3 separate regions of the Homo sapiens genome follow, and regions 1 and 2 are each linked to region 3. The links come from fine-mapping of genetic effects on gene expression. A gene starts in region 3. Each other region holds a variant in brackets. All regions are shown on one strand. Distances are from middle to middle. Region 1 overlaps COMMD10 (COMM domain containing 10). Region 2 overlaps COMMD10 (COMM domain containing 10). Region 3 holds the start of COMMD10 (COMM domain containing 10).

The links.
Region 1: its variant is fine-mapped to the expression of COMMD10 in monocytes (Quach 2016, PIP 0.91).
Region 2: its variant is fine-mapped to the expression of COMMD10 in whole blood (TOPMed, PIP above 0.99).

What each region holds. Positions count from the first base shown.
Region 1 is chr5:116,268,701-116,276,700 of GRCh38, reverse strand. All of the region lies in intron 5 of COMMD10 (COMM domain containing 10), which reads right to left. Among named protein-coding and RNA genes, the nearest start is that of MIR12130, 17 kb to the right of the region's middle. The variant A/T (reference allele first, on the strand shown) is at 4,173.
Region 2 is chr5:116,291,518-116,302,440 of GRCh38, reverse strand. It overlaps COMMD10 (COMM domain containing 10), which reads right to left. Exons shown (of 7, transcript NM_016144.4): 6 at 10,865-10,923; 7 at 9,154-9,990. The coding sequence ends at 9,952. Among named protein-coding and RNA genes, the nearest start is that of MIR12130, 41 kb to the right of the region's middle. The variant G/C (reference allele first, on the strand shown) is at 6,335.
Region 3 is chr5:116,078,818-116,089,995 of GRCh38, reverse strand. COMMD10 (COMM domain containing 10) reads right to left here and starts at 4,971. Exons shown (of 7, transcript NM_016144.4): 1 at 4,903-4,971; 2 at 2,409-2,499. The coding sequence starts at 4,943. RefSeq lists enhancers at 4,430-4,724, 5,018-5,177.

The DNA of each region.
Region 1 (8,000 bases), 190 kb before region 3:
TATCAGTAAAAATTCTGTTTAGCAAGGCTTGTATCTTAATTTAAATAACTGAATTAAGGTTAGATTTTAAAATTTAGAATAAAAAAATCATGTATGACACAAAAACATAATATATGATAATGCTACTAACACACTTTGATTTTCCTTTGACAATTAAGAAGATACGGCTGGGCATGGTGGCTCATGCCTGTAATCTCAGCACTCTGGGAGGCTGAGGTGGGTGGATCACCTGAGGTCAGGAATTTGAGACCAACCTGGCAAAATGGTAAAACCCTGTCTCTACTAAAAATACAAAAATTAGCCAGGTGTAATCCCAACTACTTGGGAGGCTGGGGCAGGAGAATTGCTTGAACCTGGGAGGTGGAGGTTACAGTAAGTTGAGATAGTGCCATTGCACTACAGCCTGGGTGACAAAAGCAGAAGTCCATCTCAAAAAAGAAGAAAAAAAAGAAGATATTTCTCAATCATGCTTCACATGCTTATATATATTTTATTTGAAATTAATTTTTATTTTTCTTTCTGGCAATGTCTTACTGATACTTTAAGACTCTTCTGAAGTGTTACCTCCTCTGCAAAACCTCGCCTGATTTCCTCTCCCCCTCCTATCCACCTGCTGCTTGCTTTGGTGCTGTACAGCACAGTAAGAATACCTGTGTTAGTACTTACGATCATTTTACAATGAAGGCTTCCAAAACATAGTGTGTTCCTTAAGGTCAAGGGTAGTACCATATATATATATATACATTTTTTTTTCAGTTTATTTCTTTACTTTCCCTCTAAAAGGAGCCAGGATTAAATAAGAATAGGGGATACTTATATTACTTATAAGCACAGTGATTACTTGTACGCTCATTAACATATGGTGAAGCAAATCTGGCCATTAGCAGTTTATGCCTTATGATTTAGGATCTGATGTTCTACATACAACTTTGTGAAGTATGACATCTTTATTTCATTAATTTATTCAACTTTCTAATTATATACTTACTTTGAGTGCAAATTAAGCCATCAGATATGTTCTGGTGCTTTGATTTATACAGAACATGGTGTATTTTATGGATATTGAGACTAATTTCACTTGTTTTCAACATAGATTTACGAGCAACACGCTAGGGTGTTGGGGTTACAGCAATGATGAAGACAATGTGTACAATCTTTGTTTTCCTTGAGCTTACGAGTCCAATAGAGACAAATAAACTGAGGTTACAAAATGACATACTTTGCCCTAACAGGCAAAGTATAGGGCACAGAGAACAAACACTACACCTACATTCTGGAGTCAATAAAGGATTCCTAGTAGAACTGATATCTAATCTGATACCTGAAAGATAAATTATTGGGAATAAAGCAGGATGGGGGATATTCCCACCAGCAAAAGAGAACATGAAAGGGAAAAGCAGAGCAGTCTACTAGTAATTTAAATTTGTGATGATGGTGGCTTGAACTAGCATAGAAGCAACAGACTATAACACATACAGATTTAAGAGCTATTTTGGAGGTACATCCACAAAACTGATTCTTTCAATGAAAGACATGGGTGAGATGAAGAGTTAGGAATCAAAGATGAAGCACAAGTATCTGCCTTGGGCAAGTGAAAGATGGGTAGGGCCATTCATTGAGATAGAATGGGGGTTGAGGGAAGTAATCTTGGGGATGAAATAGAGGTTGGGAATTTCAAGTTCAGTTTAAGACAGGTATTTCCAAGTATCTTTGGATAAGCATGTAGAAAATACCAGCAGGCCATTAGATGTACAAACTCAGTATTTAAATTAGGAATCTGGGCTACAGATTAATACTTAAGAGTGCTCAGGAGGGAGAAAAACAGACAGAAATTAGAGCTATAGTAACACAAAGTACTGCTTAAGGCAAATGTGTCAAGAAGATCAATAATAAATCCTTAAGGCACACCAATAATTAAGAGACTGCCTTGAGAGGTGGGTTAAAAACTAGAGGTAGGTCAGGGACACTAAAGAAAGAAAAAATTTTAAGGACAGATTGATTAGAATGTCAACTGCTCCCAAGAATCCAAATGAGACAAGGACTGGTAAGTGTTCATTTTAATTCAATGATGAGAATGTTACTGATATTGGCAAAAGTATTTTGGTGCAGTGATGGGGAAAAGCCAAGCCCAGCTGAACAGAGGAATGAGTATACAGTAAGAAAATCAAGCAAATGTAGCTCAGGGATTGATAGTCCGCAGGCCAAGTGTGACCTGCTGTCAGCTTTTGGGAAAAATCTGACCTACTTTCAGTTTTTGTAAATAAAGGTTTATTGGAACACAGCCACACTCATTCTTTTATATAGTGTCTAAGCCTACTTTTGTGTTGTAACAGCAGAGCTGTATAGTCTGCAAATTTAAAGAATTTACTATTTGGTGTTTTACAGAAGAAAGTTTGCCAAACTCTATTGTAGACAAATGTCTCAAATTATTAGTTCTATTTACCAAAAGTGACCTAATAAGCATCCATATTTCTCATGTTTACCACAAGACTTGCCAGTTAGAAAGACCTGTTGTTGATATATAAGTAGAAGTATAAATCTGCTGTACTGAATACAGTGTAAGTGCATCTCAAGGTTGAAATTTCAGACCCTCTTCACTATCATTTAATATATTGCTGTTTTATAGGAAAGGTTGGTGACAGTTGCAGAGGCTGTTAGATCATATCTTTGGGTAAATAAAATACATCACTTAGCTCATATTTACATACATTTTATGACATTAGTAATGACTGATATCATCTAAAGTTCTCTAAGAGAAAATAAATGCAATTTTAAGATACTTTAAAAAAAGTAAATTGTACCCTCAAATTTTCTCTTTTCTGTAGTTTATTAATAATAAATGCCTTTTTTGAATGATGACTTTAGTTCCAAGTATTATATTTTAATGAATCATTTATTCATATGAAGTCAATAAAAAATTTGAGTGTCAGTTTCAAAACTCCAGTTCATCTACAAACAGAAGTCAAAGGCTTAGATCAGAAACATTTCAACTGGACTGTTCAGCTTTTGCTTGCTATATTGGTCTTTGCCTGAAATGACTCATAGCATAACGAAGCTTCACAATTTGGTTTAATGTTTTGTATCTGTTAATGTTTAGACAGGCTACATGCCTCTGTAGTCTAGTCATTAATATTAATGAGTTTTGTGACCTAGGCCAAGTTAATAAAACAAACTTCTAAATATCCTGTTTAAAAGTTCTCAATAATAATTTTGAACTTGAAATTGTTTTGTAGAATTGTTTTATAGGACTGGAACATATACAAAGCTTTCGAAGACATCTTCTATCTTGGATGAGGAAAAATGACAGAATGGTGACAGCATCTATCAAACATCACTTTTTGATTACAGGTCACATATGGCTGGTTCAAAATCATAGATTTAATGGAATAGGGAATTAAGATACATTACAAGGAGGGTTCTTCAAAAAGCTCATGAAAAATGCATATTATGAAAAAACTATGCATGGATTTCAAAATTCTTTTGCACCAAAATATACTAACTTTTTACAGTATGTCTGAACAGGATCTAGTTTGAGGCACTAAGAAGGATAGGACATTCATTTAAAAATAGCCCCTATCAGAGCAAACTGAATTCTTCTAAAAGTGAAGCAAGAACAAGCATCACATTTAAGATGAATTGTGGGTGAAATGTGGTGAAATCATTGATGTTTTATAAAGACTTGATGGAGACAATGCCCAAAAGAAATGAGCAGTTTCCAAATGGATAACTTGTTTTAAGAAGGGACGAGACAACATTGAAGATGAAGCCCACAGTGACAGACCATCCACATCCATTTGAGAGGAAAAAAATAATCTTGTTCATGCCCTAAGAGAACCGAAATTAAGAGCAGAAACCAGAGCCAACACCACAGACATCTCAATTGGTTCAGCTTACACGATTGTGATTGAGAAATAAGTTCAGCAAACTGTCCACTAGATGGATGCCAAAACTCTTACAACACCCAGATCAACTGCAGACAAGAACAGAGCTTTCAATGAAAATTTAAATGAGTGGGATAAAGATTCCGAAGCATTTCTTCCAAGAATGGTAACAGGATATGTAATATGGCATTACCAGTATGATCCTGAAGACAAAGCACAGTCAGAACAATGGCTACCAAGAGATGAAAGTGGTCCAGTCACGAGCAAAGGCTATGGCAACAGTGTTCTGGG[A/T]TGTTCAAGTCATTTTGCCTACTGACTTTCTGGGAGGCCAAAGAATGATAACATCTGCTTATTATGAAAGTGTTTTGAGAGCATTAGCCAAAACTTTGGCAGAAAAACACCTAAGAAAGCTTCACTAGAGTCCTCCTCCACTACGACAAAGCTCCTGCTCATTCCTCTAATCACACAGAGCAATTTTACAAGAGTTTCAATAGGAAGCCATTAAGCATCCCCCTTACAAACCTGATTTGCCTCCTCTGACTTTTTATTTCCTGATCTTAAAAATATCTATAAAGAATACCCATTTTTTTCAGTTAGTAAGGTACAAAAAGACTGCACTGACATGGCTAAATTCCTCAATTCCAAAAGAAATGAGGGATGGACTAAATGGCTGGTATTATCGCTTAGAAAAGTGTCTCGACCTTAATGGAGCCTATGTTGAGAAATAAAATTTGCATCTTTTATTTTTATATTTTAATTCAATTTTTCCTTGACCTTTTTGAAGTACCCTCGTATTTCACAGAGGACTGAATACAACATGGGAACAGGTTAAATTTGTGTAATCCCAAAGTGGTTATAAGTAATTTTTACTTTCATGTCAGATCTGAGCTAACAAATATAAAACTGAGAGGTTGGTGGTTACGAAAAGATAACTCATTTGTATCACAGAGTTGGGAAAAAGTAAATGATTTTGTAAAAGTGGAATGTTTGTATGGAGCAATATTATGTAAAGTAGGGGGAAATAATGGCCTAAGAGTTTCCTTTTAGACATTTAAGCAGGGTCTGACTTAAACAAAAGTTTGCCAAGTCTTGTAGAAGCAGCCAAGGACTATGCTGCAAATCAAACTCTTCCAAGTAGACATAGGCTCCTTCTAATTGGTCCAGACTAATGTGAAACCATTATTTTCAGCAGCACAGATGACTAATGCCTTCTTAAATGTTGATCTTCCATACTGGTAGCTTAGGAGTAAAAACCACATTAGTCGTCATGCTCTCAGTCTGGTCATGGTTTAGAATGTTAACCCAATTCATGGAGGGTACTTATACTTACATAATAGAAACTAGATTTGAGATAGGAAACAAAAGTATACAAAGTATATTAAGCAGAATTAGTAATACACCCTAACTTCTATTTGGGGATGCTTACTAAAATGGTTATGGAAATGATAATATAAAGATATAGGAATTTTATATAATCATAAATATAAATATATATTTATATTTTATATATATTTTATATATTAAATATATAAAAATTTAAAAAGATAAAAATGCTTAAACAGGAAAAAAAATTGTTTTTACTATCATGTGAATTTTCCCCATGTTTATGTTTATTAAAAACTGACATAAACAAAACCTGTACAGAGAGTACTCTTTAATATACACTTTATTTCAAAGTACTGAAATAGTGTTTTATGATCATATATTTCTAGAGGAAAGATTTTCTCCCAAGCCTTTAAGGGGAAAGCTAATCCACTTGGAGAAATTTTGGGCCACCCACCAAACCTGTGATTTCCTGCCCCAATTTATGAACCAAGTTATACTGAGATTGTTAAATGGTGTGATTTTATTTATTTATATATAATCTTTATTATTATTTTTTGAGACAGAGTTTTGCTCGTTGCCCATGCTGGAGTGTAATGGTGTGATCTCGGCTGACTGCAACCTCCACCTCCCAGGTACAAGTTATTTTCCTGTCTCAGCCTCCCAAGTAGTGTTCGGATTACAGGTATGCACCATCAAGCCCAACTAATTCTTCTGTATTCAGTAGAGATGGGGTTTCACCATGTTCGTCAGGCTGGTCGTGAGCTCCTGACCTCAGCTGATCCATCCACCTCGGCCTCCCAAAGTGCTGGGATTACAGGTGTGAGCCACCGTGTCCGTCCTAATTTATATATAACCTTTATATAATGGGAATGATTATACAAAGCAGCAGCATCCCTGTTCTTTCTAGTCCCCATGCCACTACCTAATCTAAGCACTCATTTTTCAGAAATCAGAATGCTGAATTTGCTAACATTCCTTTTCATCAGTATCTCCATTCTCTAGACCGTTCTAAATACAGACGCCAAATTCAGTTTTTCGAAATGCTACTCTCTACAAAAGACAGTCAATATCTTCTCCACAACCAACTGTAAAGTTCTACCTTTTTTGCCTAGAAGTTAAAGCTTTCTATAAACTGGTCCCAGTCTAATTTTTCCTTTTTCAATTATGAAATATTTAAAATGTTAAAATAACAGGAACTAATACATGAATATAACAAACAGCCTGTAACCCAACACCCAGCTGTAACAATGTATAAACTTTTTTTGCTTTCGAAAAGCCTAAATAAAGCATCCAGTTAAAGTCTGCCATTCATCCCATCTCCTTCCCTTTAGTAAAAGGATAAAACCTTGCTGTAAATAAAAATGTAAAGTAGGAAATAAGAAACAATGGACAAAATACTCAAAAACATAATTCTTCATTATGTCAAGATAACAAGAATATTTTTTTAAATGCTGTCCATTTACTAACCTTAGATTAGAAGGCTTGAAAGTCAGAAAATAACAATAAAAATGGCAATTAATACATCTTTTCCCTTCCTTTCAAATTTGTGACAGAGGTGAAATTAACCTGGTTTCTGGAGATGGGATTAAAATATGCAGAAATGGGGTAAAAAATATATATTAATTCTCTCATCCTCATCCCTTATTCCTCTAACAAAAGGTAGAGAAGTAAGACTGGCAAGTCAGACTAGGAAGGGTACTTTAATAACCTACATGTAAGCAAACCAAGATGGCTTACAACCTCAGCAACCAAAATAATTGGCAAAAATCAATACTTTCTTTTGTGCGCTTACGGAAAAGTTGAGGGGAAAGGGAAACTTAAGAAGAGGCTAAAATATTTGAGATGAATCAGTATGGTATTTTTCAAAAAGATAAGGGAAAACCATACAATTTAAAACATATAATTTTATAAATGTAATAAAAAGTAACATTGAAATGCCTGAAAAAAAATACCAGGTGAAAATATCACTTGGACTAATCCAATTTTTCTAACTTGAACTGCATAAGATTTTTTATTTTACTACCTGAAATCTAAAAGTCAATATAACCTATAAAGTAAAATGTGAAAGTCATAAGGAGAAATCACACCATTTAACGATCTCAGTATAACTTGGTTCATAAATTGGGGCAGGAAATCACAGGTTTGGTGGGTGGCCCAAAATTTCTCCAAGTGGATTAGCTTTCCCCTTAAAGGCTTGGGAGAAAATCTTTCCTCTAGAAATACTATGATCATAAAACACTATTTCAGTACTTTGAAATAAAGTGTATAATAAAGAGTACTTTCTGTACAGGTTTTGTTTGTGTCAGTTGTTAATAAACATAAACGTGGGAAAAATTCATGACAGTAAAAACCAATTTTTTTTCTGTTTAAGCATTTTTATCTTTTTAAATTATTATTATTATACTTTAAGCTCTAGGGTACATGTGCACAACATGCAGGTTTGTTACATATGTATACACGTGCCATGTTGGTGTGCTGCACCCATTAACTCGTCATTTACATTAGGTATATCTCCTAATGCTATCCCTTTCCCTTCCCCCCACCCCACAACAGGCTCCGGTTTGTGATGTTCCTCTCTCTGTGTCCAAGTGTTCTCATTGTTCAATTCCCACCTATGAGTGAGAATATGCGGTGTTTGGTTTTCTGTCCTTGCAATAGTTTCCTGAGAATGATGGTTTCCAGCTTCATCCATGTCCGTACAAAGGACATAAACTCATCCTTTTTTATGGCTGCACAGTATTCCATGGTGCATGTGTGTCACATTTTCTTAATCCAGTCTATCACTGATGGGCA
Region 2 (10,923 bases), 210 kb before region 3:
AAGATATGAATGATACCTTTGATGTTTTTGCCCATAGCTCTCTACGTTTATCACTGAAAAATAAGACAGATCTGCTAAGACGACTGATAAAGGACAGAGGCTGGAATTGTGATTGCATTAATGGAACCTGACTAGAGAACTTCACAAATGCCCAAATCTTATCCTGCCATTCACTCCTGATGCTGACATTTCCAGAAGAGCTACACATAGGAAGACTGATAGCAACTGGGAACCAAAATGACAATTATCTTTCAGAGCTTGGTAAGGTTGGGTAAGAGCATATGGTTCATTCTTAAGGCCTAAGAAAGACACTCCCTCCCTACCTGCCCCTCTTCCCCACACATCTCAGCTTCTCCTCAAAATCTGGACTCTCTCTATTCCATCCCATAGAGTGGAAACAAGAAATGCAAAAGGAGCACCATCCATGGGCATGGTCTTTTTATGGTTGATCTGGCCATCGATAAACATGGCCAACCAATACTTTAACTGACCAAACATGAATGGCAAGCCATTCTTCCCTAAAGGATGTGGGAGAACGAGAGAGAGGGCCAATAGGGAAGTAGGCAGAGAGGCAGAAGCATTTCTTCCTCTATAACATATTCACCCTATTTCCATAAAAATGTTCTATTTGAAATCCTATACAGAGAAGTTTATGAAATTGATTTGGCTTCCTTTAGTAAACCCTAAAGTAAAAACGCTTAGAAAAATGATGAAATAAGGTTTAAATATTTAATTATAGGAGAATTTTTAACATTTCAAAAAATACAATCCTATGGAAAGAAAATTTGATCTGATGTGGCTCTATTTTTTCAAGCAGACTCTTGTAACCCTGGATCTCCTTACACAGACTATAGAGCTAAATATAAACATTAATTAAAATAATTTTCAAAGATTATCTTGCTTACAGATTTAACTGAAAGTGTAAACTAAAGAAAAGGGATCAAAGAGTAGAAATGCATTTACAGGAATGGCATTAACTTAAGGAAAATGATCCTGGAAAATCAGAGACGGGAAGGGTGCTTCATGGAATCCAGTACAGAACCACAGCACTGTAAAATCAGTGCATTTGGGTAAGTGCTTATTGAGGGCCTGAAGAAATAACCTCACAGATGGTGGCCACCCTCTACTGGTCCATCAGTTTAGGGCACCTATCAACACCTATGAGCCTGCCAAGCAGAACTTTACAAGATCACTGACCCAACCATATGAAGGAGGTTAATAGCATATCTAGCAAAGGTGGCCACCCCCAGAGTCCTCCAAGCCTGCTGTGTGAGAAATGCCTGCACTGGATAATTTGCAAGTCCAGAAAGCCAATGCATCCAAACTCACTGACTTTCTTTTTACTACTCTAGTTACTTTGTTTGGATGACATAAGGAAAGAACATACTTTGCAGTAAGAACCAAAACTCTGACAAAGAAGGCCTTGAGTTTCAAGGATTCACAGGGCATTCTGCCATAAGGTAGAAAAGTTAGATGTTATAAATATTACTCTATCATAAGAAACTGATCCCTCACATTGGGCTCTACATCTAAAGGCACAGTCTTAGTTGCATAAAATTAAACTAAACTGTTACTGAACAGCTTTCTGTGTGGCTCTGTTTATCTTGCCTGCTTTCTGTACTATCTATGTCAACTTTATCTGATTTTTGTCCAGCTGGTATATTTGTGATAAGTTGGAACAATCTGTGCCATGTAAAGGGAGACTTAAAAAAACTTTGTCAGAATTGTCCCACATCAGTGAGGAAAGCCTGTTTGTAGGCAGTGTGTACAGGAGTGTGTGTGTGTGTGTGTGTGTCTATGTGTGTCTTTAATCAAGATACTCTTTTCAGCAGGAAATTAAAATCTTCTGGGTAATGAGCTCAGAAAATCTATACACACTGAACATATATTTCAGTATAAGAATGTTGTTGATGTCTCTCTGGAGCACTTCATTTTGACCCTATCACATAAAACAACTCTGAAATTGCTAGGAATGTAACTGTTTTCAGTCTTGCAGCATCAGTACCCAGAAGCATGTGTAGGTCAACTTCATGACTATCATAAATCTCTTCACAGCAATGCGAGAACTTGCTCTAGCCTTCTGGAGGGCAGAAATCTGGGTCTCTGGCTGGTTATAAGGCTTTTATTCTCATGTTTATCTCCTGGATGATGAATAAAAGGATCAGTGACCTCAGGAGATACTCCCTAGAAGGGATGTGGCTATTCCCTAATGGAATTACCAAATACCAGCATAGCTGGCTAAACCAGTTTGAAAACTACTTTTGTACAACTTTAAGTTTACAATTATTTTAAGAATTTAGATAGTACTGTGCAAATAAATGGAGAGAGCCCAAGGCAGAAAAAAACTACATACTCTATTAATTCATTCATTCAGTATTTCTAAAGCACCCCAATGTTCGTAGAACTACTTGCAGCAGCATGAAAGAGAGTAAGAAGCTGGACTGCAAAGTAGAACACATGGTCTGGAATACACAAGTCACCTTTTCTCTGATCAGCTGGAAATTACTCTGCTCCTCTGTCAAAGCATAAACACATTCTTGGGATGGAGAGGAATGCTGGAGCTTCCAAGGTTGATGTGTTAAAGCAGCCTTATCCAGGGGACAGCAGCTTTTTCCTTTGTCCCCTTATGTAGTCTGGTTGAAACTGCAGAATAATTTGAAATGTGGACTAAAAATAGTGCACAAAGGAAACTTAGAAATCTCAGAAGGAGAGATGAGGAAAGGCCTTGAGAAATCACTGCACTCCTTGCCTTACAGCAAGTCTATATTTATCATAGATTTAAAAAACTTTATTATTGACTTTCCTTTAAAGTTTTGGGTAGAATGTACAGTGTTTTTAATTTTTATTTGCCAATTAAAAAAATACAAACATAAGTCAGAAAAAAATAAATGCAACTATTAAATTTACTATTAACTGCTTTCCTTTACCTAGATTTTTTGAAGGAAAAATCTTTAAAAATCATTAAAAAATCAGGTTCTCATTAAAAGATGCTAAAAATGACTGAACTCTGGTTTCACTAAAAGAAGATTATTATATATTCATTATTTTTCCTGCCTTGGAGATTGAAACAGTCTCTCTAAGCCTCTAGCACCATCTTCCTTACAGATTTGTTGACTGGACTGGCTTCACCTTTCCTGTCTTTGCAGACTACTTCTTTTGAAATAAAAATCAGTAACTTTCCATTTCAAATAAAACAAAGTAGGCTATGAAAACTGCCATCATTTAGATTTGGATTGTAGGCCTCCATAACAGCTAGTACAACCTTATAGTTCAGAGAAAAGCAAAAGAGCTTCAAAAATACTTCAGGAGTGTGCATATGGCGAGATGGGAGCAATGGTTAAAAATCCTTAAAATTCTCCAAAATTAAAAATGCCATTAAGCTTTACTATAAAATACCTCAAATTAATGTGTTCCTAATTTTAGCATTAAATGAAGCTGGTCTATTGAGTAGGACTATTTGCATAATGATGGCAAAAAAAAAATCAAAGTTTTAGGGAAGCAAAATTGATCAGAAATTTAAATTATAATTCCTGAGTAGCTTCTGACTAATGCATCTGAATAAATCAGAACCATCCCAGTCCTCTTATTCAACAGTAGAAAAAGAATTATGGAAAGACTTTGGGGGAAATTTACAATATACCCTTATGGTTTCTCAAAACATTTGTCTCAAAATAACCACACTGAAGGAGGGAGGTGAATATAGGTTCCCAGTAACACTGAGAATTTAGCCTGAATTCGCAGGCTGCAAGCACAAAGGTTTTGTTCTGTTTTTTAAGGTTTCCCATTTCCTCTTTAACATTTATATGCATTTTGCCATAAAATGTAAATCTCCATTTTAAAATATGTTGTACATTACTGGCCAATTATAATAAAATTATGTTGCCACCATATTAGTTAGGCTACAGGCAAACGTGCTGTGTATAGCCTAAACTGACCCCAAATTTAATAACTCAAACAAGATATTTTATTTCTGTCAAGGGCATGGAGACAGCTGTGTTCTATAAGTATATTCAGGGACCCAGGTTCCTTCCATCTTGTTGCTCCCTACCTCTTAAGCATTAGCATTCTTGTCTGCTCAAAGCTGACTCAGCTCCAAATCTGGGTTTCAATCACAGAAAGAGGAAGACAACTGGAGATGAATGATCACTTCCATTCACAATTCATTAGCAACACTTAGTTCCACGGCTGCAGTAGCTGCAAAAGAGGATAGAAAATGTAATTTCTTCTACTTCTGGCAAAAAGTAGAAGTGATGCTATTGAAATATATACAACGTCCATCTTACGACTTTTTGTGTTCCCTACCAACTACTTTATTTCTCTAGGGATGCTCCGGTTTAGAGAGCATAGTATAAAGCAGGGTTCTGCATCCTTTCTTTCTATAAAGGGCCAGGTTTTAGGCTTTGTGGGCCATATGGTCTCTGCTGCAACTACTCAACCCTGCTGTTGTTCAAAAGCAGCTACAGACCATATGTAAACAATTGAGCATGGCTGTTGTTTTAGTTATCTATTGCAGCGTAACAAATTACTACAAAGTTAGAGGTTTAAAACAACAGAGTTATCATCTCACAATTACCATGGGTAGAGTTCAAGCATAGTTTAGTTGGGTCCTTTGTTTAAAATCTCACAAGGCTGCAATAAGAGTCAGTTGGACTGTGCTCTCATCCAGAAGCTTAACAGGGAAAAAAACAAAACAAAGCCAAACAAAAAAACGACAAGAAAACCCATTTCCAGGCTAATTCAAGGTTGTTCGCAGAATTTATTTCATAGAGGCTATAAGGCTAAGGGCCTCAATTTCTTGCTGGCTGTTCTCCCTCAGCCCCTAGAGGTCACCCTCAGTTCCTTGTCATGTAGCCCTATCCGCAGCCTCTCTTATAACATGGTATTATTTCTTCAAAGCAAGGAAGGGAGAAAGTCTCAAGAGTGAGTTTGGTAGCAAGACAACTGTGTTCCAATAAAACTTTATTTACAAAGACAAGTGGTGGGTCATGTCCATCATTTGCTGATCCTTGGTATAATGAATAAAGTGTAGAAGACATTATTTACGGTAAGAAGAAATCAAAGTTCACTGAGTAGAGAAAAAGATTTCTCAGAGCCAGAAGAGCCACGTGGAAAGGTACTCAGAAGAAAGTATTTTTTTCATTCTGGTCCCATAATACATGTATTACCTCATTTTTTAAATAAAAAATAAAAGCAGAATTGGCATTGTGTTAGAATCTGTGATTATAAAATGGAGTTGTTATTAGAATGCCAAATAAGTTTAAAGTGAAGGGGCTTCATAGCAAGCTTTCTACAATTTTGACTCTAATTCAAACTTCACCTGGAAAAATTTCAACAGAGAGTCTGCTTATTTTCTTAATGATTATAAAAATGTCAGCTAATGCTTATTATATGATTGAGATTCAAGGATTATGCTAAATGTTTAACATGAATTTCACTTAATCTTCAAAACACTCATGTTAGTTAGATTATTATTCCTATTACAAAGATAAGTAAAGTGAACTTTCACAAATTAACTTGCTCAACACACACACACAAAGTAGAAGAACAAGGATATAACCTTTGCACTGTCCTGAGAAACCAGATCGTTAAATTTTACTTAATGTGTAATAGGATCCTTTGAAGGGTTTTAGGCAGGGAGATGGTATAATTAATAGGTTATTTTTTAAAAATTAGCTCTGTACAACGACTGGACTGGAGGAGGGCTAGAATGGAAGAAAGGTGGTCCAGGGCAAAGTTGATGGCAGCTTGGACAGGGTAGTGCCCTGGAGATACACTTGCAATACATTTTGGTGGTAAAAACGACAAAACTTGTAAGAGAATGGCTCCCTGTCTACCTAATTGTAGTGCACTCCACTATGCCATCTGTTCACTACACTCTAGCCACACTGACCTTTTGGTTCCTGAAATGCGCTAAGCCTTTCCCATCCTCTGAGATTTTGCATGGGCCATTCTCTCTAGAATGCCTGTCACTCTATTCTACTATTGTGCCATCTTAACTCATCATATTGGACTCAGCTCAAATCTCACTCCTCAGAGAATCCTTCCTTGATGCCCCAGTCCAAGTTTGGTTCCATCATTAATTTTCTCTGAATAGAATCCAATTATATTTTGTCCCATATTTGTTCATTTATTCCATATTTGTTTACTTTTCACTAACACATTACATTTCAAGAGGCCAAGAACTAGTTTTGCCTATCACTGTAAACATGGTACCTAGCATACACAGTTCCTGCCACCATATTCACCATACTCAGCAGTGATTACTTGTTGAATAAATAAATGCCTGACTTCGAAGCCCTTACACTTGAATACTGAGTTATTGGCTCTCATATTT[G/C]ATTTTTAAAGAGATTTCCTTTTCAATCCTTCTATAGTTATCAAAGTGACATATCTCAATATGTCCCATCACTCTTCCTAAACAAACACTGACCTCAGGTTATAAAAAATGTTGAGGGTGAAATGTATAGAAGGAAGAAGGGGCTGCTGAAGGTGGCTTGAGGCAAGTGAGTTCTCATTCATTGTTTGTGGGAGTACAAATTAATATAATCCTTTGGAGAAACAATTTAGCAATATATATCAAAGGCCTTGAAATAAATATAAATGTATTTTTGAAAATACACAAGAGGTGTGTATATTTGTATTATAAGATGTCTGGTTTTTTGTGTGTTGAGATGGGGTTTTGCTCTGTTGCCCATGCTAAAGGGCAGTGGCATGATCACAGCTCACTACAGCCTCAACTGCCTGGGCTCAAGCAGTTCTCCCACCTCAGCCTCCCAAGTAGCTGGGACCACAGGTGTGTGCCACCACACCTGGCTAATTTATTATTATTATTATTTTTTTTTTTTTTTTTTTTTTTTTTTGTAGAGACAGGACTCACTATGTTGACCATGGTGGTCTCAATCTCCCGGGCTCCAGCAATCTGCCCACCTCAGCCTCCCAAAGTGCTAGGATTACAGACATGAGCTACTGCACCCACCAAATGTCTGCAGTATTAGGTAGGTACTTCCAGGAAGTGAGATGGCAAAATGGTGCAACTTTGTTTTAATGGGCAGCTATATATATATGTATGAGAAAAGGTCTCATTCTGTCACCTAGGCTGAAGTGCAGTGGGATGATAGAATGACTCGCAGCCTCAACCTCCTGGGCTCAGGTGATCCTCCCACCTCAGCCTCCTGAGTAGCTGAGACTATAGGCATGCACCACCAAGCCTGGATAATTTTTGTATTTTTTTATAGAAATAAGGCTTTGCCATGTCGCGTGGGCTGTTCTCAAACTCCTGGGTTCAGGTGATCCTCCTGCCTCAGCCTCCCAAAGTGTTGGGATTACAGGCATAAGCCACCACACCTGGCCTTGTTTTTTTATAATGAAAATCCGATTAAAGATGAAAATAGAAAATAAATCTTCATACTTTTGACATAGCAACTCTACTTCTAGGAATCTATACTAATAATATCACGAGAGATGTGGTCTAGGGTTTATGTATAATTATATTTATCAGTGAGTTCCCTACGTTCAAAAATTTGAATAATCTAAATGTGCCAAAATTTGGACAATTTAATTATTTTGAGAAATATAAAGTATATAAAGTATAGATCATTCAAATGATGAACTATTTAATATACATTAAAATTATGTTTGGGCAATAAAGATATGAAAAATGTTCATGCTGTAAGGGTACATAAAGCAAAGTATGAAACAGAATTTATGGCATTACTTCAATTTGTTAGGAAAGAAGAAAAAATGAACAAGAAAGATAAATGGATACAAAAAAACTGCAATAAATCTATCAAACTGTCATTAATGGCCATTTTTGGATGATAGGATTCTGTAAGTTTAGATTAGTTATTTATGATTTTTTGGTATTTCCCAAATAAAAATAATCATGATAATTTATAATTAGGGAAGAATTACAAATATAATTTGTAATAGATACAAAAATTAGTTCCTCTTTCTAACAAGCAATTCTGTCTATTCAATCCTCATGTCACACACTCGTGAAAGACATACAGTAACTTTATTTACCAAGATTGCAGTTCCAAGCCCCATTAATCTCATTTATCTTATTTTTATAAAAAAGTAACATGCATTTAATACTCTTTGGAAATGCCACATGTTCTTTGACTTGTGCATCATAACAACAGTAATGTCTTAAGAAAGAAAGTTATCTTCAACTAAATATTTCAGAAATAATTATCTTCTTAGTTGGCATTAGATCTTCTACTTGCCCTTTCTTTACTGTCTCTGAGTCAGATTTTGTTGAACTAGACTAATGGAAAGAAGACTATTTGCCATATTTTTGCATAGGTTTAGAGATATTCTTAAGATAAATATAAAGCTAATTCTTTTAGGGAGCATACAACGAACTACTTTCAGAAAACTTCATTTCTAACCATCATATTTAACTTGTATACCTACATTAAGAATTCAGTTTTGCCACTAAACCAACGAAAACTTCTATTTATCTATATGGCTACTGTCAGGAAGGCCTATCAAATTTAACTTGGGATGATGTATATTTACATGTACATGAGAAAAAGTCTCAAAGAATGTTTACCAAAATGTTTATAGTACCTCTAGGACTTCAGGTATTTACTTTTGAGAACTGGCAAAACAGAGCGTAAAAAAGTAGGAGAGATCCTACAAGCCACATTATATTGCAAACATGCCTTCCAGATATTCTACCAATGAAAGTTTGAGTTTAAAAACTTTCAATCAACTATGGAAAACTGTAATAGTTGTATTCTGAAATAATCCAAACTCTCAATTCTTCTAAGCAACAGCTTACAAATAGATATACAAACAAATGTGGGTATAAATTCCATATACTGAATATTTGAGAGATACTTAACAGTTGTATTTCCCAGATGCTTCAAATAAGAAATGTGCTTCAATTTCAATGGCTTTGCTTATTTAAATATAGGACATTTCTGAAATCAAATTTCTTCATGTGAAGCAAGTCATGTTTGAATCTCTCTCTTTTTGGAAACAATACAGAAATTTCATTCATAAAAAATTCAAGTTTTTTTTAAACAAATGTATGTAAATGTATTCATTACATACATTTTAACAAATGTACGTAAATGTATTCATTTACATACATTCATGGCATAAAATATACTATAATGTATATAATTAAAAAATGTACACTTCAACCAATCCTAAGACACAAAAATTTTATTGACAGAAATCAACGTATTTATGGAAAGAGAATATAAAAGGTATCTGATTCGAATAATGGTGCCCATTTAGCACTCATTACAATTATTTTATTCAAGACCTGATTCTGTCTCCCAAACTATAAAGTGAATCATTATTAATTTGCAGTATAAAGAAAAACACACAAAAACCTGGACTATTATTAAATCATTAAACTGAGAGAGAAACTGAAGTTGACAGAGAAGCTCAGACTGGAATTAACTGATACCATACTACTCACTATTTTACATTTCCTTCCTATATTATTTCCGAAGCAAAATATACTCATCATATTCAAATAAAAATGCCATAGTGTATTTGATTGTATATGGCTATTTTCTTAATTTTATTCATGTAATTACCAAAGCTCTGTATTCTACTAAGGTACACATCTTATCTTGTATCCATGGACGCTCCTTGATACATTATGGTATCATCCAGCAAGTAAAAACTAAGCAGGACAGGCAAGAAAGCAACACTATGACAGTAAAAACAATATGGTATTCACTTTTGTTTCCTTTAAAGGGAAAGTGTTCTTAATAATTACTGTTGGCTCACAGAACTAAAGAAAGTATATTAGAACCTCAGTATTCTTAACAATGATCTCTATTGGTTGTTATTTGTCTAAGAAGTGATAAGCCATATAATTTACAGAAAGCAAGTCACTGAATCCTTCAGAAAACACAACCTGGCAATGTATCTTCAATGCAAAATAATGAGGTGGCAGGAGCGTGATGAAAAAAACAGTCTTCGAAAACATCATGTAAGGGAATCCAGCTGTGCTTGTATAGTCTCTAGCTATTTACAAAGACAAAAAAAAAAAAAGACGTTAGTGAAGGGAACGAAACTCATATCAAGTGTTATTCAGACACATGCAAATAGAAAGGAAAAAATAGCACTGGTAACTATGAATATTAAATCCATTCACATAGCAATAAAATTACCACTTAGAATATTTTTCTTTTTAGGTGAAGATATTAGAATTTGTGCTTGAAAATTTAAGTTTTCAAATTTTCAAAGAAAGAAGATTTCTTAATACTGTTGTTTTAAGTGTCTTCAGCTGTTTCCTTTTAAATTATCACTCCATAATTTTTTTTTTAATGAGACATGGGGTTTTATTGGAGGCTTACATATGAGGGAGTGGGTACAGTGGTGGTGGGCTGAACAGGATAACCACACGCATGCTCCAGTGGCAGTACACTGGCAGAAGAACTGCCTACTTGATAATATTTTAAAGTTGGGGGGTGGAGGGAGTATATTTTCCTGGATTACAAAATCAGTCTTCAGAAAGAGACATGAAATATACTCACAGATAAATCTCTAAAGGCATGTTTCCCTTTACCCTTGGGCCCAGAAATTAAAGTATTTGACATTATATATATTTAAAGTGTCAGTGTGGCTAGGAATCACAAAGTTCATTACTTAATGTTTTATATTAAAGCAACAATCCTATTGCTTTAATTAAAACTATTTTCCTTTTCTTCCTGATTTAGTTTTTCAAATTCTCTTCATTTCTGCTATACTTCCTCCTGTGAAACATAAGGTCTTTTATAAGGGAAGTTTAAAGAACTTAGTTCCATAATATGACATTTAAAAATAAGAATTCATAAAATGAAACAAAATATTATGAAAAAAACTCCACATATTAGAAAATTATTTTAAAAATACAGACCTTGTTATAGAAATCAAACAACTCCTTGTGACTGAATTCCACAAGAACTTTCTCCAGGC
Region 3 (11,178 bases):
TTCACTATTCTAAGAATTCTGTCTCAAGGTAAAGGCCAACTCGATGGAGTCGGGATACATAAATGAAAGTAGGCAGATCCTGAAATGCACTGCAAACTTGACTGAAAAGCCCTTATCAAAATAGGAGCCCCTCTAAAAGAAGATCCCCTGAAACTGTACAGGAAAAAAACAATTAGACCTTTCCTGACGTCTTCTTAGCAGGCAAGTATTCACATACATATGTTTCTTTATTTAAAAGTCCCTGGACATTAAATGCCAGCAGGACGGGTAACTTCACTTTTCAACAAGCACCTCTTCTCCTCTCCACTCCCCTACCTCTGATGGCAAAGCATTCAAGCTCCTCCATGGAATGCTTTAGCCACTCAGTTAACTCTAAGATAGATACTAACTATTCTCAACTCCATACATGACTGAGAGTGTCAAAGACAAACTAAACATCACAATTTTCTGTGCAAGTTCTCCACTCCCTCAGTGTGAAGAACAAAAGACATGTATAAGAGTTTCTTGTCCCATATTTTTATACATAAGCAAGCACCCACCAGCTGAAGAAATAAAGCAGAATATCTGTATTACCCACATCATTCACTTTTGGGCCAATTTATGAAATGTTCCATACTCTTTCCTGAGGTTTCGTGTAATAAGGGAGAGAGTTACGGAGCCAAGTTGCCCAACTAGCTAGCTGTGTTACCTTGGGAAAGTTACTTAACTGATCTCTATCTCTATCTTGGTTACCTCATAGATAAAATGAAGATGACCAGAGATGACCACAGTACCTATGTTTTCAAGTTGCCATACGGATTAGATGAGTTAGTAACACAAAGCCATTAGCACCACAACAGTCAAAAACAAGCCAATGTAACTTTATGAACAGCAAATACCACAGAATGTTGCCGCTATCATTGCAGTTTCTCCTTTCTCTCCATCCACCTCACAAATTCCTTAGAAAAAGGAATATATTATAGAAGACTTAGGTTTGTTTTGTGTTTTCCACAGCAAGGAAAATAATTAACTTCAAGAACATTTACTGAGTGCCAACTATACTAGTAGCAATGTATTAGGAATGGGAAACATAAAGATGAGTAAGACATAATCCTCAAGATATTTAAAACCAGAGGAAGACACATTAATAGGTTTGGGGATTTGGTTGCCTGCTAATCATGAAACAAATACTTATGATGCAGTACTAAAATCAGGTGAGAATGAACTAGGAGCACAGAAGAAAGAACAAACTGCTGAGACTGAGATTGTGAAATCCTTGAAGGATGAACAAGTTACTCAGTAAAGGGGAAGAAGGACATTTATAGGCAAGGGAAAGAGTATATGCATAGACACATTGCTGAAAAAGTTCATGGCAAGTTGTAGTAAATGGGTACCATCCAGTGTAACTGCAGCACTTACAAAATGAGGAGAATGTAGACTGCAGCCATACTACAATGGGACTTGTACGCAATGTTAAGGATTTCTAACTTTTCTCCATAGGGCAATGGACAGTCACTGATGGCTTTGAACACTGTAAAAAATATAATACATCTTTGTTTCAGGAAAAAAAATTTAGAAAGTAATTTACATAGTATTATGAAGCAGTAGAAAGCAAGAAGACTATAGGCAGGGAAACCAGCTTGAAGGTAACTATTGTCATCTAAAAAAGAGGTACTAAAGATTTGACCTAGAATTGTGAGAACTTGGATTTGAAAGACACTTCAAAGGGGAAAGGCACAGTTTTGAGGCTGGCTCTTGGCCAAGAAAAACAAGATGACAGAGTAAGAGTCTTGGTTCTCAATGGATGGTGATACATGGCACTGCACAGAGCAGTTAGTGGGTGCTCCATAAATATGAGATGGAATCAAATTTTTATAACCTGATAAAGAAATTAACTAAATTAACTTGGATTGGGCCAGGTAGAGAATTACAAAGCATCCACATGTCCAAAACAACCATATCCTTAAAATAAAAGTGAAAGAGAAACAAAATTAAGTGAAAGATTAAATACCAGTTGATAGAAAATACCACAGAATTATTTTTAAGCGGAAAAATAAAACCAAGACATCAGAATTTTTCCCTAAAGTATATTTTTAGAACTTTAGTCCCAAAATATATACCATAATAAAACAGATCCAAGGTCAAACACATTTGGAAAATGTTACCTGCCATAATCACCCTCGAATACATACCACAAACACTAGCATATAAAATACTCTGAAAAGTTCCATAATTTAAAACATTTAACTTTATTGAAGACAGAGTTTCTCAAACTTCTGACCATGAAACATTACCAAATCTTCCACAGAACCAGTGTCTCTAAGAACATATTGGAGAACACTATGCTTTGCAAAAAGTTCTCCAAATAATCAGACTTTCAATTAAATCAGAAGGAAGATTACAAGGCATGGAAACACACAAATACAAACCTTCAGGTGAAGTTTTTGAAGAATCCGAGTGAGCAACCGTGGAAATCTTCCTGTATCTATTGCATTTATCAGTGACACTGCTTTCTTCATGCTAAACAAAATTATAAAACAGAGTTTTGAAATGAGTTTTCCAAGTTGAACTGCACTTTCTATAGTTGTCTATAAGTTTTCATTCCAACAACTCTGAATGCTATATGGTAAATCTGAGTGAAATAAAAACAGATGACAGCCAGCAAAAAAGGCAGGGCAACGGGTACATTTCCAAAAAGATGCCCCCAAAATTACTTCTGCTGAAAAGGTCCATTTGGCAAATTTTCTCTTTCTTTTGGGCAAACCAAACTACTAGGGAAACCTTGTACTGCGCAGGGAAGAGCCTTAATTTAGTAGAGCGTTTATATAAACACTTAACCCAAAAATGGAACTCTGAAAGGGGTGGGAGGAGAGGAATAGCAATTATGGCAATTACACCAAAAACATAAAAGAATACTGCAAGGCAAATAACTTTTCAAATACTATGTACAAAATCATCTGGGGTCACTAAGCACACAGTTATTTTAAAACCCTGTTTCAACTGTAAAATCAAATTTATTATTACAACAGTAATCAATTTTGAGATAGGGTCTTACTCTGTCACCCAGGCTGGAGTGCAGTGGCACGATCTCAGCTCACTACAGCCTCTGCCTCCTGGGTTCTAAGAATCCTTGTGCCTCAGCCTCCCAAGTAGCTAGAACTACATGCGCGGGCCACAGCGCTGGCTAATTTTTGTATTTTTTGTAGAGACAGAGTTTTGCCCTGTTGCCCAGGCTGGTCTTGAACTCCTGAGCTCAATCAGTCCTGCAGTGGCTCACCCCTATAATCCCAGCACTTTGCAAGGCCAGGGAGGACAGATCACCCGAAGCCAGGAGTTCCAGACCAGCCTAGCCAACATGGTGAAACCCCATCTTTACTAAAAATACAAAAAATTAGCTGGGCGTGGTGGCGGGTGCCTGTAATCCCAGCTACTCAGGAGGCTCAGGGAGGAGAATCGCTTGAACACAGGAGGCGGAGGCTGCAGTGAGCCGAGATGGCGCCATTGCACTCCAGCCTGCGCAACAAGAGGGAAACGCCCTCTCAGGGAAAAAAAAGAGAGAGAGATTAGCCCGCCTCAGCCTCCCAAAGTGCTGGAATTACAGGCATGAGCCACAGCACCTTTCCTGTAATAATCAACTTTAAATGATGTGATGAGAACAATTCTATACTGCACCATATTGGATACAGTTTACTGATGTAGCGGTGTTCCCCAAGACACTGGTATGAGGAAAGAAACTGGCGATCAGAACCAAAGTGAGGCAGGAAAATAGGGTCAGGAGGCTGGGAACATAAAGCTGATTCCCACTTCAGCTATGACAAGAAATGTCCTCTCCATATGGCATAGGCGGAGAAAATGACTTTGTAACTTTACTTCATCCTCTTCATTTACATAGGGAGTACACCAAGTAACCAATGGAATCCTCTAGAGGGTATTTAAATTCCCAAAAATTCTGTAGGGGCCCTTCAGCCCCTATGCTCAAGCAGCTCCCACACTGTGGAGGGTAGTTTCATTTTCAATAAATGTCTTCTTCATTCTTTCCTCGCTTTCTTTGTGCGTCTTCTCCAGTTCTTTGTTCAAGACGCCAAGAACCTGGACACCCTCCACTGGTAACAAAAGGAATCCAGAAAGAAGGAAAAACTTTAAAATAACTCTTTTCTTCTGAAAGATTTCTACCCAATCCAAGCACAAAGAAATTACTTCCGAACACTATTTTGCCTATATACTTCAGTACTTTTTCTGTATCCACACGCTACCTGCACTATTGCTTATTTTTTCACAAATTGAGTCTTTTTTTACTTAAATAATGTTAAAGGGGAGCTTTATATCACTACCATGGACAACCAACTTTATCTACCATAAGTAGAAATTAACTAAAAATCTGTTTAAAATGCAAATAAAAGCAAATGCTACCAAAGCCAGGCTAGATTCTTCTACCAACCAAAAATTCGGTCCCCTATTCGATACTGATTTAAAAGGGGTATTAACACATGTTGGCTATTAAAGACCCTCCAGCAGCAGCGTGAGCCTTTCCCACCAGAGTGTCTGAACCGGAACTGAAATCGGAAACGGAATACCGTTCCACGTGATTCGGCAGCACTGAAGGCAGCACCCGGGAACTTCTGATACCAAACTCCGCGAACAGTGACGCAGACCCCACGCTTGCAGACCACACGCTTCCGTACAGACCTCAGCTGCCAGGCGCACTGTGAGCCCCACAGGTGGACCACCGTGACTGTAGAGGCGCTACACGGCCCCACGCACTCCGCAGACGCAGCGTCGCAACCTCGGCAGCCCACCCCACCCCACCCCACTCAACCGGGCCCGCCGCGGCGCCCAGGCGGCAGGCAGCAAGGACAGCCTTGTGCGAGCCCGATCTGGGCCTTCCTGGGCGCGGCTACCGCAAGAGCTTAACGGATCAGCTACCTGGGGCTCTCCCGTAGGATCAGCGCCGCGGGGACCGCCATCTTCGGCTTTCTCGCACTGCCGCCGTCTGTTAGCTGCGCCGAACCCAGCCAATGGCGGCCGCGGCGGACGGAAAGCCGGAAGGCCCAAGCCGCGCAGGGGCCGTTTTAGGGCTCCGGGTCTCCTGCGACCCGGGCGCCGGGAGACTTGTCCCGCAGTCCTGGAGGGCGGAGAGGGCAGCCCAGTTGCCCTCCCGACACTCCAATCGTGTTGGAGTTAAGTCTGTGCATATATATGTCTTTATATTTATATATTATATATGTATGTACATACCTGGATAGGGGTGTGTGTCTGTATTTAATAGGGCAGGTTTAAGCAAGTCTATGTACAGACCTGTATAGATATATGTGTGTATGTTCGTGCATAAATATATACATTATTATTTTTAATAGGGCAGGTTTAAGCAAGCCCGTGTATACATACTTGGATAAATGGTGTGTGCGTGTGTATATTTTTTTAATAGGGCGGGTTTAAGTGAGCCTGTGTGTACATACTTGGATAGGTGATTTGTGAGTATTTTTTTTTCCAGCGTTTGGGCTACAGAGAGGCAGGCATTTGAGCGAGCTCCCCCGAGCCTGCCCAGGAAGCGGCGCATCACCCCTCAGGAGAGGTGGTGCCTCCAGTTCCACCCTAAGCACTGTGCCGTCAACCCCTCCTGTATCTGCATCTGCAGGGCTTGTAGTATGTACGTTCAATTCCTTCAGCAACGTTCAATGAATGAGTGCCTACTGTGTACCAAGCACTGTTCTAGGCACTGGAGATACAAAAGGCCAAAATTCCTGCCCTCAGGGTTTGCCGGCAGTCTAAATGGACAAGTATTTGTTGCACCCTTCTTTAGAGTCTGACAGTGCAGAGTAGGGGAGATGAATCGCTGCAGTGAGTGATGTCAAAGACCTCACCCAAGACTAGGGAGACACCATGTTTGCATAAATACCTTGGTCTGCCTTTGAGAAAAACATGGAGTGAGTTAAAGGAATTCAGATGTGGGAGCAGTGAAAGGCATCCGAGGTAAGATCAGGAAAAGCTCCCTAGGGCAGGTGGCAAATGCGGTGGGTCTGCAGAGATGTGGAGGGTGAGGCTGTGTGTTTCAGGTCAGTAGAGTAGAAGGGCGGTTTGACGTTTGAAGAACAGGAATTTAGACTAGAAAAAGCCTTTAATGACTGGTTGTGGCATGTGCACTTAATCTGGTGAGAAATGGGTAAGCATTAAATGTTTTTTCTATCCATTAAATGTTTTGAACCAAAGAAATTTTGCAGTGGGAGTTGGATTTTTGAAGGTTGCTGTCAGCAGAATGATGATTGAAATGGAAAGAGGTAAGCAGGAGAGCTACCTGGAAACTACTGCAATAATCTATAGAAAGCAGTAAAATCCTGTGGTACTAAAAAGGCATTGGTGAATTAAAAGATAGTGGATGGATTAGTTACGTTTCAGCAGTAGAATATTCAAGAGCTGCCAAAAAATTGAATTTAATTTTCCTTCCTAATTATGTTTTACTTAAATTATTATTTAAATTAGTTGGAGTTCCTGGAGCAGCCCAAGAACAACCTAACTGAAAGGAGAAACCAGATTGCACATTAAATCTGAATAATCTCCACATGGATAATTGAGTCAATTATACAGTGTGTTGAACACATACAAATACATTTAGTTCCACAACACTCTACAGTCCCCAATGTATGCATATCTGAAAAAGATGTATGTGAATCTACATAAATTATAGGTCTCTGATCCAAACACAGATGACCTCATCTGCAACTTAAAAGGGTCCCAGTTCCCTCATTCTTTGAATCATTTCCCTTTTGTCTTGATTCCTTACCTGAAGTAGAACCACTAACCAACTAAAACTGTTTCAAATCCCTAATGAAGTTCACCCTCTGATTGCCTTAAAAATATATAGCCAGAATTTTGAGCAAAAGAGCATCAAGATGGCTCAAATCCCAAATCCATGTAACCTTGGACAAAGTACTTAACCTCAACAAGTTTCTCATTCCCAATCTGTAATGGGGATGAGAATAATGTCTGCTCCCTTGGATCTTAATGAGATTTAAATAATGTGGTACGTATGTAAAAGAAACATTCTACCCTCCTTAGAAAACAAAACCCAGACCTCTTAGGTGTTCACAAAAGCAAGTCTCCAGTGGACACAGAGGCGACTCACTCTAATGCTCTTCATTTTCAATGATGGGCTGATTACTTCTTATTACCATGTTTCTATAAAGGCGTGATGCTGTGAATAGTTTCACACCTCAAATGAGAACCTCACCCAAGATATTTCTGCATTCTCTGGAATATAGACATCTATGTCCATGAAAAGTCCTTTTAGTTGTCTGCTATTATTGTGTGGGAGTCTTAAGTCTCTTCGTAGGTCTCTAAGAACTTGCTTTAGAATCTGGGTGCTCCTATATTGGGTGCATATATATTTAGGATAGTTAGCTCTTCTTGTTGCATTGATCCCTTTACCATTATGTAATGCCCTTCTTTGTCTTTTTTGATCTTTGTTGGTTTAAAGTCTGTTTTGCTAGAAACTAGGATTGCAACCCCGGCTTCTTTTTGCTTCCCATTTGCTTGGTAAATATTTCTCCATCCCTTTATTTTGAGCCTATGTGTTTCTTTGCACACAAGATGGGTCTCCTGAATACAGCACACCAATGGGTCTTGATTCTTTATCCAATTTGCCAGTCTGTGTATTTTAATTGGCGCATTTAGCCCATTTACGTTTAAGGTTAATATTATGTGTGAATTTGATCCTGTCATATGATACTAGCTGGCTATTTTGCCCATTAGTTGATGTAGTTTCTTCATAGTGTCAATGGTCTTTACATTTTGGTCTGTTTTTGCAATGGCTGGTACTGATTTTTCCTTTCCATATTTAGTGCTTCCTTCAGGAGCTCTTGTAAGGCAGGCTGGTGGTGACAAAATCCCTCAGCATTTGTTTGTCTGTAAAGGATTTTATTTCTCCTTCGCTTATGAAGCTTAGTGTGGCTAGATAAGAAATTCTGGGTTGAAAATTCGTTTCTTTAAGAATGTTGAATATTGGCCCCCACTCTCTTCTGGTTTGTAGGGTTTCTGCAGAGAGATCCGCTGTTAGTCTGATGGGCTTCCCTTTGTGGGTAACCTGACCTTTCTCTCTGGCTGCCCTTAACATTTTTTCCTTCATTTCCACGTTGGTGAATCTGACGATTATGTGTCTTGGGGTTGTTCTTCTCGAGGAGTATCTTTGAGGTGTTCTCTGTATTTCCTGAATTTGAATGTTGGCCTGCCTTGCTAGGTTGGGGAAGTTCTCCTGGATAATATCCTGAAGAGTGTTTTCCAGCTTGGTTACATTCTCCCCATCACTTTCAGGTACACCAATCAAGCATACGTTTGGTCTTTTCACATAGTCCTACATTTCTTGGAGGCTTTTTTCGTTCCTTTTCATTCTTTTTTCTCTAATCTTGTCTTCATGCTTTATTTCATTAAGTTGATCTCCAATCTCTGATATCCTTTCTCCTGCTTGATTGATTCAGCTATTGATACTTGTGTATGCTTCACAAAGTTCTCATGCTGTGTTTTTCAGCTCCATCAGGTCATTTATGTTCTTCTATAAACTGGTTATTCTAGTTGGCAGTTCCTGTAACCTTTTATCAAGGTTCTTAGCTTCCTTGCATTGGGTAGAACATGCTCCTTTAGCTCAGAGGAGTTTGTTATTACCCACCTTCTGAAGCCTACTTCTGTCAATTCATCAAACTCATTCTCCATCCAGTTTTGTTCCCTTGCTGGTGAGGAGTTGTGATCCTTCGGATGAGAAGACGCATTCTGGTTTTTGGAACTTTCAGCCTTTTTGCGCTGGTTTTTTCTTATCTTCGTGGATTTATCTACCTTTGGTCTTTGATGTTGGTGACCTTCTGATGGGATTTTTATGTGGGTGTCCTTTTTGTTGATGTTGATGCTATTGTTTTTTGTTTGTTAGTTTTCCTTCTAACAGTCAGGCCCCTCTTCTGCAGGTCTGCTGGAGTTTTCTGTAGGTCCACTCCAGATGCTGTTTGCCTGGGTATCACCAGCAGAGGCTGCATAACAGCAAAGATTGCTGCCTGCCCCTTCCTCTGGAAGCTTTGTCCCAGAGGGTACCCACCAGATGCCAGCTGGAGCTCTCCTGTATGAGGTGTCTGTCCACCGCTGCTGGGAGGTGTCTCCCAGTCAGGAGGCATGGGGGTCAGGGACCCACTTGAGGAGGCAGTCTGTCCCTTAGCAGAGCTCAAGTGCTGTGCTGGGAGATCCGCTTCTCTCTTCAGAGCCAGCAGGCAGGAATGTTTAAGTCAGCTGAAACTGCACCCACAGCCACCCCTCCCCCAGGTGCTCTGTCCCAGGTAGATGGGGGTTTTATCTATAAGCCCCTGACTGGGGCTGCTGCCTTTCTTTTGGAGATGCCCTGCCCAGGAAGGAGGAATCTAGAGAGGCTGTCTGGCTACAGTGGCTTTGCCGAGCTGCAGTGGGTTTGCACCCAGTTGGAACTTCCCAGCGGCTTTGTTTACAATGAGGGGAAAACCGCCTGCTCAAGCCTCAGTAATGGCAGACGCCCCTCCGCCCACCAAGCTCAAGCGTCCCAGGTTGACTTCAGACTGCTATGCTGGTAGTGAGAATTTCAAGCCAGTGCATCTTAGCTTGCTGGGCTCCATGGGGGTGGGATCCACTGAGCTAGACCACTTGGCTCCATGGCTTCAGCCCCCTTTCCACGGGAGTAAACAGTTCTGTCTCGCTGGCATTCCAGGCACCACTGGAGTCAAACAAAACTCCTGCAGCTAGCACGGTCCAAACGGCCTCCCAGTTTTGTGCTTGAAACCCAGGGCCCTGGTGGTGTAGGCACCTGAGGGAATCTCCTAGTCTGCGGGTTGTGAAGACCCTGGGAAAAGCGTAGTATCTGGGCCGGATGGCACCTTCCCTCAAGGCTTCACTTGGCTAGGGAAGGGAGTTCCCTGACCCCTTGCACTTCCCGGGTGAGACAATGTCCCACCCTGCTTCTGCTCACCTTCTGTGGGCTGCACCCACTGTCTATCCAGTCCCAATGAGATGAACCGGGTACCTCAGTTGGAAGTGCAGAAACCACCCGCTTTCTGCGTTGGTCTGGCTGGGAGCTGCATGCTGGAGCTGTTCTTATTCGGCCATCTTGCCAGCCAAGTAAAATATCCATTGCAAACTTTTATGAAGTCCACTTTTTATTACATTCTGTATTAGCCTGACTTTTCTAGAAAACAAGCCTAGTTATTATACATCCTTCATCAGGAACTATAATTGCAAGGGAGTAGGAATGCAGGCAAAAGGGAAACTAAGGAAAGGTAAGGAGAAAGCAAATACAGGGTGGCATGTTATCGAACTGGTTACAGCTTCAAAACCTAGCTTATTTCTCAGTACTCTGGGATATTTCCAGAGAGGCTATTCAGAATCACTGTGTCTTGGAACAACATGGCGTGGGAGTGGAAGAAAGAAATTGTCTGTGAACTCTTTCCAATTTTTTCTTTCTTCATCAAAATTTGTCCTATAACTCATGCTCCTGCATTTCTAGGATATGTCACCTGGTGCCTCTAGGCAGCCCCACTGGAAAATTCAGAGCTTCCCTGGTTCCAATAGAATAGGAACTGAGTCCTGAAGCTATAGCAGAAGAGGAACCCATGGTTCAGTCCCTGCCCATAGCCCCTTCCTTATCCCCCTCCCTCTGCCCTGCCAAGGGTGGCAGTGAGTGACAGGAGCTTTAAACCATGGCAACTGTCAGAGTTTCCAGGGGCCATTTTGTCAGGAAAGTAGAGCAACATGCTGAAGCCTTGGAAACAAGTGGGGCTGAACTTACCTGGGGAGGGGCATAACTTGGAGACAGTTCTAGCCTTTAGTGGAGTCTCAAAACAAGAGGTGCTTAGGCCCTAACTGCTTCAGTCTTTACTGTGCAGCTTTTTCAATTCACATTCACCTAGTTTGCCCAGAGTACATCATGGCACAACTTGGAGTAAGTTCTGGTGTCAGCCCTCCCTGTATCCTGGAAGCTAAAACTTCCCTCTGAGTGTGAGCTTTGTCCTGTTTGGAAGGGCTCCTTAGTGGCCTCTACCTACAGCGCCACTGTACACTCGCCCTCCCCCCATCAGGCGTGATTTATATTTTTGACACCCAGTGATGTAAAGCCAAGATCTGGGGTGTTTTTCTCCCAGAAGTCTTCCCCCAACCCTAAAGGAACTCTGAAGACACCAGGGATCCTCACCCAAATCTATCCTT